Linked DNA regions of Homo sapiens. The protein of the gene in region 2 purifies or fractionates together with the protein of the main gene of each other region. This does not show direct contact. Each region holds a gene or a part of one and is shown on either strand. Other genes may lie near its edges.

Region 1 (3,746 bases), on a different chromosome or scaffold from region 2:
TACAGTAGCTTACTTTCTCTAGGTCAATGCCAACATCTGTGAAAAAGGAATCATCTAATGACTACACAGAATTGCTATGTAGTACCTCTCACATGGAATGCAGTCAAAAATGTTTATGTGATAAATATATCTTCATCTCCATTACTCAAGGACTAATTCACTTTGTTTGTGGACTACTTAAACTCTTTGCTTCTATTTTCCTAAGGTTCAACCATTCGAGTTAACTACACAGTGTCCAACGACAAAAGATAAAGCAATAAGAAAACCTACTTTCAATTGCATATTTATTAGCAGCATTATGGTATAACAGTTAAGAGCTTAAGCTCTGGAGTCAGACTGTCTGGATTCAAATCCTGGTTTTATCTTTTACTAGATGCATGATTTTGGGTAAATATTTGGCCTCTCTGTGTCGCAGTTCCCTCTTCTGTAAAATAGTGACACTACATATTCTCTTAGGGTTCTTTGAGGATTACAGGAGAAGATACACATAGAGCATTCGTACACAGTACTTGGCACATAGTAGATGCTCAATAAAATTAGTTTATTTTTTGAGGCAGGGTCTTGCTGTGTTCCCCACACTGGAGTGCAGTGGCATGATCACGGCTCACTGCATCACTGCAGCCTTGACTTCCTGGGCTCAAGCAATCCTCCCACCTCAGCCTCTTGAGAAGCTGGGACTACAGGTCCACAACACCCGCTCAGCTAGTTGGTTTTTGTTTTTTTAATTTTTTGTTTTTGTGGGTACATAGTAGGTGTATATATTTATGGGACCGGCTAGTTTTTCAATTTTTTGTAGAGACGGAGTCTTGCTCTGTTGCCCAGACTGGTCTTGAACTCCCAGGCTCAAATGATCCTCCTGCCTCAGCCTCCCAAAGAGCTGGGATTGAAGGCATGAGCCACCCCAGCCAAGATGAGCTTTTTAAACAGAGATGCTGGAGAAAATGAAATTATGGCTAAGGTTAAAAAAAAAAATAGCTGAGATCCTTACACAACATCAAAAAGTAAAAAAGTAGGATTTCTCAAGATTTCCCACATTATCTTAGATACCAAGAAAAAAAAAATCGACTGTAGAGGTAGTAATTTGAAGTCCTCAAAAGAAAAATCATGCATGTGGTTATATTCTTTTAAAAGGGGGATAAATAAGAAACTTCATCTACTGACAGTATACAATTATGCAGTACGGCACAGGTGCAGCCAAGCAAAAAGAAAAACATGAAGCAAAATAGGAAGGCACTGCCTTACCTGCTTCTCCGTTTTCGAGGCGGTTTCTCCACTGTGCCAGTCAGTCTGCAGACCAAACAAATAAGACGGTAACTAAAAGTAACATACAAGAAAACATCTCCCGGCGCTACCGTGCCAGTCAAGAACTAAATAGACCACCCTCTGGGACCACAGGCTCGCCAAGCCCAGATCTGACCTTACAAACGCCTCATGCCCTGTTTCCCCTATTTACCAAGACCTAGCATTCCTGGGACTCACCGTTCCCCCAATTCCCCCTGAGCTCAAACCTTCCTGGTCCCTCACCCCATCCTCGACCCCTGCTCGTCACAGCCCAGCTCCCCAAAATCACCCACCTCCACCTACTCATTGTCTGCCTCGTCACCCCCGCAAGCCCCCCTAGCCTCCCCTTTCCTGTGCCCACCCGTTCCCGACCGTGCACTGCCCCCTCCACGCCCCGCCTCTCCGGGCCCGGCGACCCCCGCATTCCACGGCCCCTCCGGGGGCGCGCCCGCCTTGCCCCTCCCGGCCCCGCGCCGCCAGCCTCACCCCTCGGCGCCCCTTCCCTCACACGCCCCTCTCACCTGGCCTCGAGGAGGCGATCGCGCCCAGCCCGCGCCGCCGCCTGCAGGCGCCCCCAAGGTCCCCCCAGCCTGCACCCCCCGCCCCTCCGGTCTCTGCGCCCCGAATGCTCCACCGCCCCGAGCCGCTGCCCCTGGGCCCGCTCCCTGGCCCCCACCCCATCCCCAACCCCGGCCTCCACCCAGCCCCCGCACCTGGGGGCCAGGCGACTCCGCGGCTGCTGGGGCTGCCGGGCTCCTCTGACCATCCGGCTCCTGCTCCGCCGCGGGAGCTGCTCCGGCGGCCGCAGGGCTCGCTCGGGAAGCTGAGGCGGCGGAGGCTGGAGTAGGCGGAGAGGCGGGAGGAGGGCCTCGCGCCTCTGCCAGGCTTGCCGCGGGGCCCGCCTCCTCCGCGCCTCTCCTCGGCTCCCATTGGCTAGAGCAGTAGTGTGGACGGAAATCTGTCAGTCGATTGGACGCTCGGCCCGTCACATCCCGCGCTGCCCACCCAGAGGTTTGGTTGAGACTGCAGGTGGCGGCGGAGGTGCCTTAGAGATTGCTAGCAGGGCCGGAGGAGACCCTAGCGCCACCATGCGTCTAAAAGTAGGAACTGCACCCCCGGCTCCAGACACCTGCCCCAGGTTCTCCTGGCTCTGCGTCCTGCATACCACACACCTGCTGGCGCCCCTCCACCTCTGCACCACGCCAGGACCGAAAACAAGCCCTGAAATCTCCCAATTTCTTCTAGCAGGTGAGACAGTGAGGCAACTCTCACAAACGTGTTTCCTTTTAAGCCACCTCGAATGCGATCCTTGTCCCTACATCTTGCTGAAATTGTCTCACAGCTCACAGCTACCCCTCAAAAAGGACCCAGCCAGAAAACTCTAAGAATCCACCAAAATAAAGCATGGTTTGGATGCTCAATCCTCTGCAGAAAAGCTCACTAGCTTGGGTGCAGGCTTTTAAGAAAGTAAGATTTTTTTTTAATTACCATGAAAGAAAAATCAGCACTACAAACAGAACCAATGCCATACTAAAAGCAACGTGTTCCATTTTGAAAGGCCTGGACAAATTTGATCCCTGAATGGAAGCTGACCATCCTGATTGTGTGACCATTGCAAGTTCTACACCAATTAATCAATTTTAAAATAAATTGTACTGTATTTTTTGACAAACAGGCATGCAAAACTGCCTTTCATAAGCATAGTTACCCTTCTTCTGCTTTAACAAAGCCATCCTTGAAAATAAGACTCAGCTCATTAACGTATTATAAAATTCTTGAAGGTGGGAAGGCCTCTCTAAATCTCTACTCCTGTGTGAACTTGTTTGGTATATTCTCAGCATCTGTTCAGAGTTGGGAGGAGGCATAAAACTTTCTCTTAAGTCACTTCCATTTTATTAGAACATCTTTTATGCCTCAATAATATGACAGCGTCGAGTAGTACATGTCAACATTGGGGTGGGGAAAATCTCTCATTGATCTCCATAAGCGGCAAAAATTAGGATACTAGTTTTTCACAAAACCAAATGTATTTGGTGTAAAGAGTTGTCTTTTCTTCTGAGATGGTCCTACCTACATCTTTAATGGTAAAATGACTTTCCATTTATGAAGTAATACTGACGGTAAATTGTAGTAGGAATTGAAAAATTGCTTTGAAAAAATGTCAAATCTCTGTTGGTCCCCCAAATTAGTATTTCACGTAATCCTAAAGTCACAGAACCACAAATCACCTCAATCTCAACTAACAGTTTCCACCCATATTATCAAGCCAGAGAGAGGAAAGAACTCGAGAATAATTTGTGTCAGACGAAGGGGGATCATCAACTCACTAGGGAAGTAATCTTGAAATACATTTATTATATTCCTTATTAAAAATCCATTGCCTGCTTTTTAGCATCTTCCATAATTGACCAATCCTCACTGATATATGGCAGATATTGTCAATAAAACAGGACCTATTCATTTCT
Region 2 (3,469 bases):
AAGTAAAAGTTCCCTTGGCACCCTCCCTGCAGGTAACCCCAGTTAATAGTTTGAACGTATCCTTCCAGACTTTTTGTTACTCACTTAATGCATATATATATATATATATATATATATATATATATATGTATGTATGTATGTATATTACATATACCAATCCATGCATAGTTTTCTTTTTCCCCAAGTGAGGACATACTGTGGGCTCTTCCTCGGCAGCTTCCTTTTTCCTCTCCGTTTGTCTTGGAGAGGTTGGTTGTGTGGCGAAGTCCTTCAGGGCAAGTTCTGGGTTGACTCCTGGCTCCACCACATACTGAACAGGCCATTTACCTCTCTGTGCCTCAGTGTCCCCATCTTTACAATCAGGAGAATAACAGTACAGACCTCACGGTACTGAAGTAAAGATGCAGTGAGTTAATCCATATGAAGTTTAGAGCAGTGCTTTTGCCAATAAATGCTGATTGCTGCCGTCATTGTTGTATTGTTATTGCTGTTCTATCTCCATGGCAGCCCATGTTTGAAATGCATTGCTTTCCACAGCTGCCTGTGGCCATGGCATGGGTGTCTTTTTCCTCCCCTATCCAACGTGTGGCTCCACAGGGAGGGAGGAGGTGCAACAGCAACGGTGTGCGCAGAGCAGCGTCTCTGCGGGAGAGGCACCTGGGCACTGGGCCCAAGGGAACAGGGATTTTCCAAGGACCCACTGTTTCCAAAGTTCTGTGCTTAATGTCGGGGTCCAAGCAGGAAGCATCCCTGCACTTGACCACAAGAAGGTCACAGCCCAGTGGGTGATTGGGACCCAGCTCATAGCCAAGGCCTCGACCAGAGCTGGAGGCTTCCTGGAGGAGGGGCCTTTGAGCAGGTGCTTCAGGCACGGCGAGGTAAGAGTGAGAGGAGCATTCCTGGCAGAGGGAACACAGTGAGCAGAGCGAGTCTTTGGAAGCTGGAAGGGATGTGGCCTGTGTGCTGTAGCCAAACAAGAGGGGAGGACTTGGCTCAGAAAGAATGGTGGCGGAAGAGGTTGGGCTGTTGCTGGGACCTCCTCACTGGCCTCCCTGCCTCCATCCTGTCCCCTCCCAGGTGCTGGCCAGCAGCACTGTCAGAGCGATCGTTCTAAACCCAGCAGATAACCTCCAGTGGCTCCTGCTGCCTTATGAATAAAGGTCCCATCTGTAGTTCTTCCCATGCTGTCCAGGGCCATTTCTGGTGTCCTCTGCCTGCCCTGTCCTCATTCAGTCCTGTCCCCTCCAGCCACAGCTGGCACCTCCTTGTTAAGGTGCAGCCATGTGCATCCTTGCCTCTGTGCATCGGGCTGGGCTGTTCCTTCCACCTGGGATGCCCCTCACCTTCCTCCCTGCCGCCCCAGACCAAAACAGACGTCCTGTCTCCTCCTCCTCTGACCTCCGAGGCAGAATGAGTCATCTCCCTTTGTCTATACTCGTGGCATAGCGTTTATCACGGAATTATCGGCAATTCTGCCAGTGTCTGTCCTCCCCATGAGGCTGAAGCATCGAGGCCTGAAAGCACGTCTCCTTGCTCTCTCCGGCCCAGTGCCAAGGGCGAGGCCTAGAACACAGGACGCTCAGAAATGCTTCCTGGCAGGAGGGCCAGGTGAGGTGGAGAGGGTGAGAGCCCCAACATTGTCTCCCGTGGGCCCCTTTGATCTTTAGCAAGGGCATGCTCAGGTCTGTGTGGATCTTGTGCTGTCAGCCTTTAGATGAGTGGGGTGAGGGGCTTGGTGGGGTCGGGGGGCAGGGGGAGGTGGCGGGCAGCTTCCCCAGGCTGCTTCCTGAGGGGGCTGGGAGAAACTGGCTCATCCTGTTCCCCAGTGATTGAGGCAGAGCTGTGCCCTGTTCCTGGTGGGTCACTGGGGATCTGAGATTGGAATGTGACACCAGGGAAGGGGAGGCAGGGTGGGAGGCAGGGCTTGGAGGTACAGGCTGGGGCTTGGCTGGCAAAGGACAGATTTCGCTCCACTGGTTCTTGAACCCGTGTGTGTGTGTGTGTGTGTGTGTGTGTGTGTGTGTGTGTGCACGCGCGCGCCGGGGAGGGGAGAGATGGGGAAGAGAAAAACATGAGGGCAGAGAGGTGGAGTGGGGGTGGAGGACCTGGGGAGTGGTGAGCAGGGACAGGGAGAGATGGAAGTGGGGGGACGGCAAGGAGTGAGGGAGAAGTTCCTGCTGCTGCTGCTGGAGAGTATGAAGAGTGTGCTTAGGGCCAGGAAGGAAAGCAGCCAGGCGCATCGTCTCACACCACCATCAGCCATGCCTTCCTTCGTCTGTCCAGCAGACAACCCTAAGTGTTCTCTTGCTTGGCTCCATGCTTGCATGGCCCCAGACAGGAGCAAGCCTGTGGTCCAGGCTTCGCACCCTTGAAGTCTAGGGGCCAGGTGAACAATGAGCATCCGGTTTCTTTCTTTTTTTTGAGATGGAGTCTTGCTCTGTCGCCCAGGCTGGAGTGCAATGGTGCGATCTCAGCTCACTGCAACCTCTGCCTCCCGGGTTCAAGCAATTCTCTGGCTCAGCCTCCCAAGTAGCTGGGATTACAGGCGCCCACCACCACGCCCGGCTAGTTGAGCAACCTCTTTCTGCACAAAGTGATCAGGCTGGGGGAGAGAAGGTGCCCAGAATGCTGTGCAGAGGCAGGAGAGGAGGGTGGAGCAGGCGAGCATGGGGTAGGGGGCAGGGAAGCCATGTGTTAGGCACTATGGTGGGGAGCCAGGACTGCTGGGGAGTCTTCCTTTCCTCTCTGGCCTCGGTCTCATCTGTAAATGGGGGAAGAGTGGACTGCTCTTGCACTGATGGTCTGTGGACCCAAGTCACCCACTCCTTGGGCATGAGAAACCAGGGACCCCGTGGAGACAGCTGATAGAACAGGGACAGCAGGCATGCTCAGAGCGTCTGCAGGCCCATGGTCAGGGGGCTTGAGGGAGAACATGCAGAATCCAGTGGAGCTTGGGTTCGCCTCCTAGAGTTCCCTTCTTGGAGACTGTGCTCATCTGGAAGGCGAGATAGGGTCGGGGTAGGGGAAGGAGCACTGGATTCGGAATCAGGAAAAGTGGTTGAGTTTTAACTGCAGCATCCCTCGGGCAAGTCACTTTCCCTCTGTGAGGGTCAGTTTCCTCTTCTGTCAAAAATGTGAACGGGCTTTGTTGTAAGCATTAAAGGTGAGCTGGGGCGCCGTGGCTCACGCTTGTAATCCCAGCACTTTGGGAGGCCGAGGCAGGCGGATCACTTGAGGTCAGGAGTTTGAGACTAGCCTGACCAACATGGCAAAACCCCATCTCCACTAAAAATACAAAAATTAGCCAGGTGTGGTGGCCCATGCCTGTAATTCCAGCTACTTGGGAGGCTGAGGCACGAGAATCACTTGAACCCAGGAAATGGAGGTTGCAGCGAGCCAAGATAGCACCACTGCACTCCAGCCTGGGTGAAGGAGACTCTGTCTCAAAAAAAAAAAAAAAAAAAAAGTG
Region 3 (3,646 bases), on a different chromosome or scaffold from region 2:
ATGTCCATCAAACCTAGCTCCTCCTATCATCAGTCTTGGCTCTGTCCCTTAAGCTCTGTCCATCAAACCTAGCTCCTCCCACCAGTCCAGGCTCCTCCCCTCAAGCTCTGTTCATTAAGCCTAGCTCTTCCCCCCAGCCCTGGCTCCTCCCCTCAAGCTCTTCCCATCAAGCCTGGCCCCTCCCATCAAACCCAGCTCCCCAAAAAGGCGCTACTCTGGCCCTTGAGGATTTGTGTACACAGCCCACCCTATCCTAACGCCTAGCATCTGACCTCAAAGTCCCACCCATCGTGCGTGGCTTTTCCGGGACCCCATTTCTTGTTCCTTCCCTTAAGGCCCCACCCATGAACCACTGGCCCCGCCCCCTCAAGCCCCACCCCCCCCGTCAAGTCCCTCCCATCTGCAGGTTCTTCCTTTTCCCAGGCCCTTGGGGGCCGAGGTGCGCCTCCTGCAGCTCTCAGGTCTCACCCTCTAGCGCTTGCCCCCACAGGGAGCCCACCTAGCTGTCATTGATGCCCTCATGGCTGCCTTTGCCTTCGAGTGGACAAAGACCCTGCCAGGTCCCTTGGCCCTGACCAGCTTGGAGCACAAGCTGCTTTTCTGGGTGGACACGGTAGGTGGGGTTGGGCCTGGGGTGGGTTCGGGGACCAGCATCGTCCAGTGGCCAGACCACTGACCCCCTCCCTGCCCTCCAGACCGTCCGGCGGCTGCAGGAGAAGACCGAGCAGGAAGCGGCCCAGCGAGCCTCTCCAGCAGCCCCTGCAGACGGGGCGGCCCCGGCGCAGCCCTCGGTGAGGCCAGGGCATAGAACCGTCAGAAGGATGGGGGACCGGAGATCTGGGAGGGCAGGGCTGTGCTTCCTGGACACTCCTGAAGTGGGGAGGGGGCTAGAGGTGACACACTCTCTCTTTCTTCCCCCCTCTCTCAATCTCTCTGTGCCCTGCCCGTCCCCTGTGCCGGTACCCGCTGCCCTCCTCTCTGCCTCTCTGGCCTCAGTGCCCTACGCGCTGGTACTGGAAGCTGGTTCCTGTAAGTGGGGCTGTCTGTCCGCCCCGTCTGCCTGCCCTGCTTGTAGCTCTGTCTGTCTGTATGTCTGTTTCTGCCTGCCTGTCTGCGCGCCCTCTCATACCTCCCCAAGCTGTGAGCAAAGGAGGTTGGACCCCAGTCCTGGGAGACAGGGAGAACCCCTCTGTGAACCAAGAGAAGGGTAGAATCTCGGCCATTAACTGAGAGGGCAGACCCCTCCCCCAGCGAACTGATGGGTGGGGACGAACTTCCCCTCCCGTTATTCAGAAGGGCAAGCCCTCCCCGTTCCCATTAATGAAGAGGGTGGGACCCCCTGAACCTGTCCCCCTTAGCCGAGGTGGGGAGACCACATAAATTTCTGAAGGGGGGACCTGCAGCCCATCACAAACGTGGATCCTGACCCTAGCAGGCAGGGCACCCTCTGGCCAAGGGGAAGACCCTCCAATGCAGAAGAAGATAGAATAACTTTCCTAACTGAGACCCCCAGCTTCCCTAGAGAAAAATCCCAGCTTTGAAAAGGAGGAGGAGGCCCATCCCTGAAGCTGGAAGTTGAAATTTCTCTCTTCCCTGAATGAGCTGTGTGACCTTGCAGAAGTATCTAAACCTCTCTGTGCTTCATATAAATTACTCCCATAGTAGATAAACAAGGAGGAAGTGGGGGAGGTTTTGGGCTGGCTGGCGTCCCCACCTTTGCTCACTCCTTCCCCCACCCTGGGGCCTGGGTTGGGAGGTTCCCTTCCTGCCTACCCGCTTCCTCTGCATCCTCTCCCCAAGCTGGGGGCCTGGGTCTTTTGTGGGAGGAGGATTCCCCGCATAAGAGGGGGTTCCTACTCTGTGGGGTCCCTTGGGGCTGGGAGGAGCTGGGGTTCGCGAAGCCGGCCAGAGCAGTCAGGGAGCTGGACGGCCGGGGCTCAGGACCAGGGTCAGGGCTACCCCCTCCCCCCCAAGGTGGGCTTGGGGGCCCAGCAGGTCAGCACCCCTCCCCCTTGCTGATGGCTGCTCCTCTCCCCCCAGCACGCAATTGCCTTCTGTTTGAAGGAGTCGGGGAGCAAACCCCCCATGGTAATGTATCCCCCGCCCCGGGGTCCCAGGAGTCCCTGTCCCCAGCCCCCGCTGCTGGCCTGGCTGCTCGAAGACATCTCCTCTGCCTCTTGCTGCTGCCCCTCCCCTGCTCCAGGCTGGCCCCCCAACTCTGTCTCTGGGACCCCCAGCTTCCCGCCCCCTCATGGCGGAAACCCCAGGCCTCCCTGCCCAGCCTGCATGACCGCTGACCCTGGGGGCCAGCCTGGCCACTCACCTGACCTGGCTCCCATCTGCAGATCCGATACCGCAAGGACCGTGTGGTGGCGCGACGTGCCCCCTGCTTCCCGACGGTGACCAGCCTCCAGGACCTGGCCAGTGGGGCCGCGCTGGCCGCCACCATCCACTGCTATTGTCCCCAGCTGCTTCGACTTGAGGGTGAGTAAATGGATGTGGAACAGATCTTGTGCCGGGGAGCTGGGCATCCTAAGTCCCAGCCCCTAGACCCTCCATCCCCAGGTCCGCGAGACCAGCAACGATGCAGTGGTCATGAGGGCAGCTTCCGGAACTGGCAGGCCTGAGTTTGTGTCTCTCTCTTCCCCAATGAGCTTTGTGACCTCACACAAGTATATAAACCTCTCTGTGCTTCCAGGAGTTCATTCCTGCAGCAGATGAAACGTATGGAGTGTGGACTGTGTGCCAGACCTTGTTTTAGGCACTGGGGATCCAGCCAGAATAGAGACACACTCCCCACTTCACAGACGGCTCTAGCTGGGAGAGAAAGATACTAAGTTTATCCAAAAGTACTTTTTTTTTTTTTTTTTTGAGACGGGAGTCTTGCTCTGTTGCCCAGGCTGGAGTGTAATGGCATGATCTCGGCTCACTGCAACCTCCACCTCCCAGGTTCAAGCCATTCTCCTGCCTCAGCCTCCTGAGTAGCTGGGACTACAGCCACACGCCACCACGCCTGGCTAATTTTTGTATTTTTAGTAGAGACGGGTTTCACCGTGTTGGCCAGGCTGGTGTCGAATTCCTGACCTCAAGTGATCTGCCTACCTTGGCCTCCCTAAGTGCTGGGATTGCAAGTGTGAACCACTGCACCCGGCCCAGAAGTACTTTTTGCATACTGGGTAGTCCTAAAGGCAATGGGTGGTCAGAAAAAGCTTTTTTTAAAAAAACTCTTTTTTCTTTTTTATTAAAAAAAAAATTATAGGGCTGGGTGTGGTGGCTCACGCCTGTAATCCCAGCAGTTTGGGAGGCCGAGGCGGGTGGATCACGAGGTCACGAGTTCAAGACCAGCCTGGCCAGGATGGTGAAACCGTCTCTACTAAAAATACAGAAATTAGCCGGGTGCGGTGGCGGGCGCCTGTAATCCCAGCTACACAGGAGGCTGAGGCAGGAGAATCGCTTGAACCCAGGAAGTGGAGGTTGCAGTGAGTCAAGACCATGCCATTGCACTCTAGCCTGGGCAACAGAGCGAGACTCCATCTCAAAAAAAAAAAAAAAAAAGTATAAAATAGAGATGGGGTCTTGCTATGTTGCCCAAGCTGGTCTTGAATCCCTGGGCTCAAACATCCTCCCACCTCAGCCTCCCCAAGTG

The links.
Region 1: the proteins of RAI1 (region 2) and SCAI purify together in Homo sapiens (affinity purification with mass spectrometry, with the first as the bait; one large-scale study listed by BioGRID). This does not show direct contact.
Region 3: the proteins of RAI1 (region 2) and CAMSAP3 purify together in Homo sapiens (affinity purification with mass spectrometry, with the first as the bait; one large-scale study listed by BioGRID). This does not show direct contact.

Annotation. Positions count from the first base shown.
Region 1 is NC_000009.12:125,141,391-125,145,136, forward strand, and holds the start of SCAI (protein SCAI), read right to left. Parts: upstream 2,139-3,746; 5' UTR 2,048-2,138; coding exon 1,995-2,047; intron 1,288-1,994; coding exon 1,243-1,287; intron 1-1,242. UniProt on the Homo sapiens protein: Tumor suppressor which functions to suppress MRTFA-induced SRF transcriptional activity. May function in the RHOA-DIAPH1 signal transduction pathway and regulate cell migration through transcriptional regulation of ITGB1.
Region 2 is NC_000017.11:17,684,581-17,688,049, forward strand, and holds part of RAI1 (retinoic acid-induced protein 1), read left to right. Parts: exon of another isoform or gene 1-1,608; intron 1,609-3,469. UniProt on the Homo sapiens protein: Transcriptional regulator of the circadian clock components: CLOCK, BMAL1, BMAL2, PER1/3, CRY1/2, NR1D1/2 and RORA/C. Positively regulates the transcriptional activity of CLOCK a core component of the circadian clock.
Region 3 is NC_000019.10:7,605,781-7,609,426, forward strand, and holds part of CAMSAP3 (calmodulin-regulated spectrin-associated protein 3), read left to right. Parts: intron 1-490; coding exon 491-613; intron 614-695; coding exon 696-791; intron 792-996; coding exon of another isoform or gene 997-1,029; intron 1,030-2,040; coding exon of another isoform or gene 2,041-2,088; intron 2,089-2,345; coding exon 2,346-2,484; intron 2,485-3,646. UniProt on the Homo sapiens protein: Key microtubule-organizing protein that specifically binds the minus-end of non-centrosomal microtubules and regulates their dynamics and organization.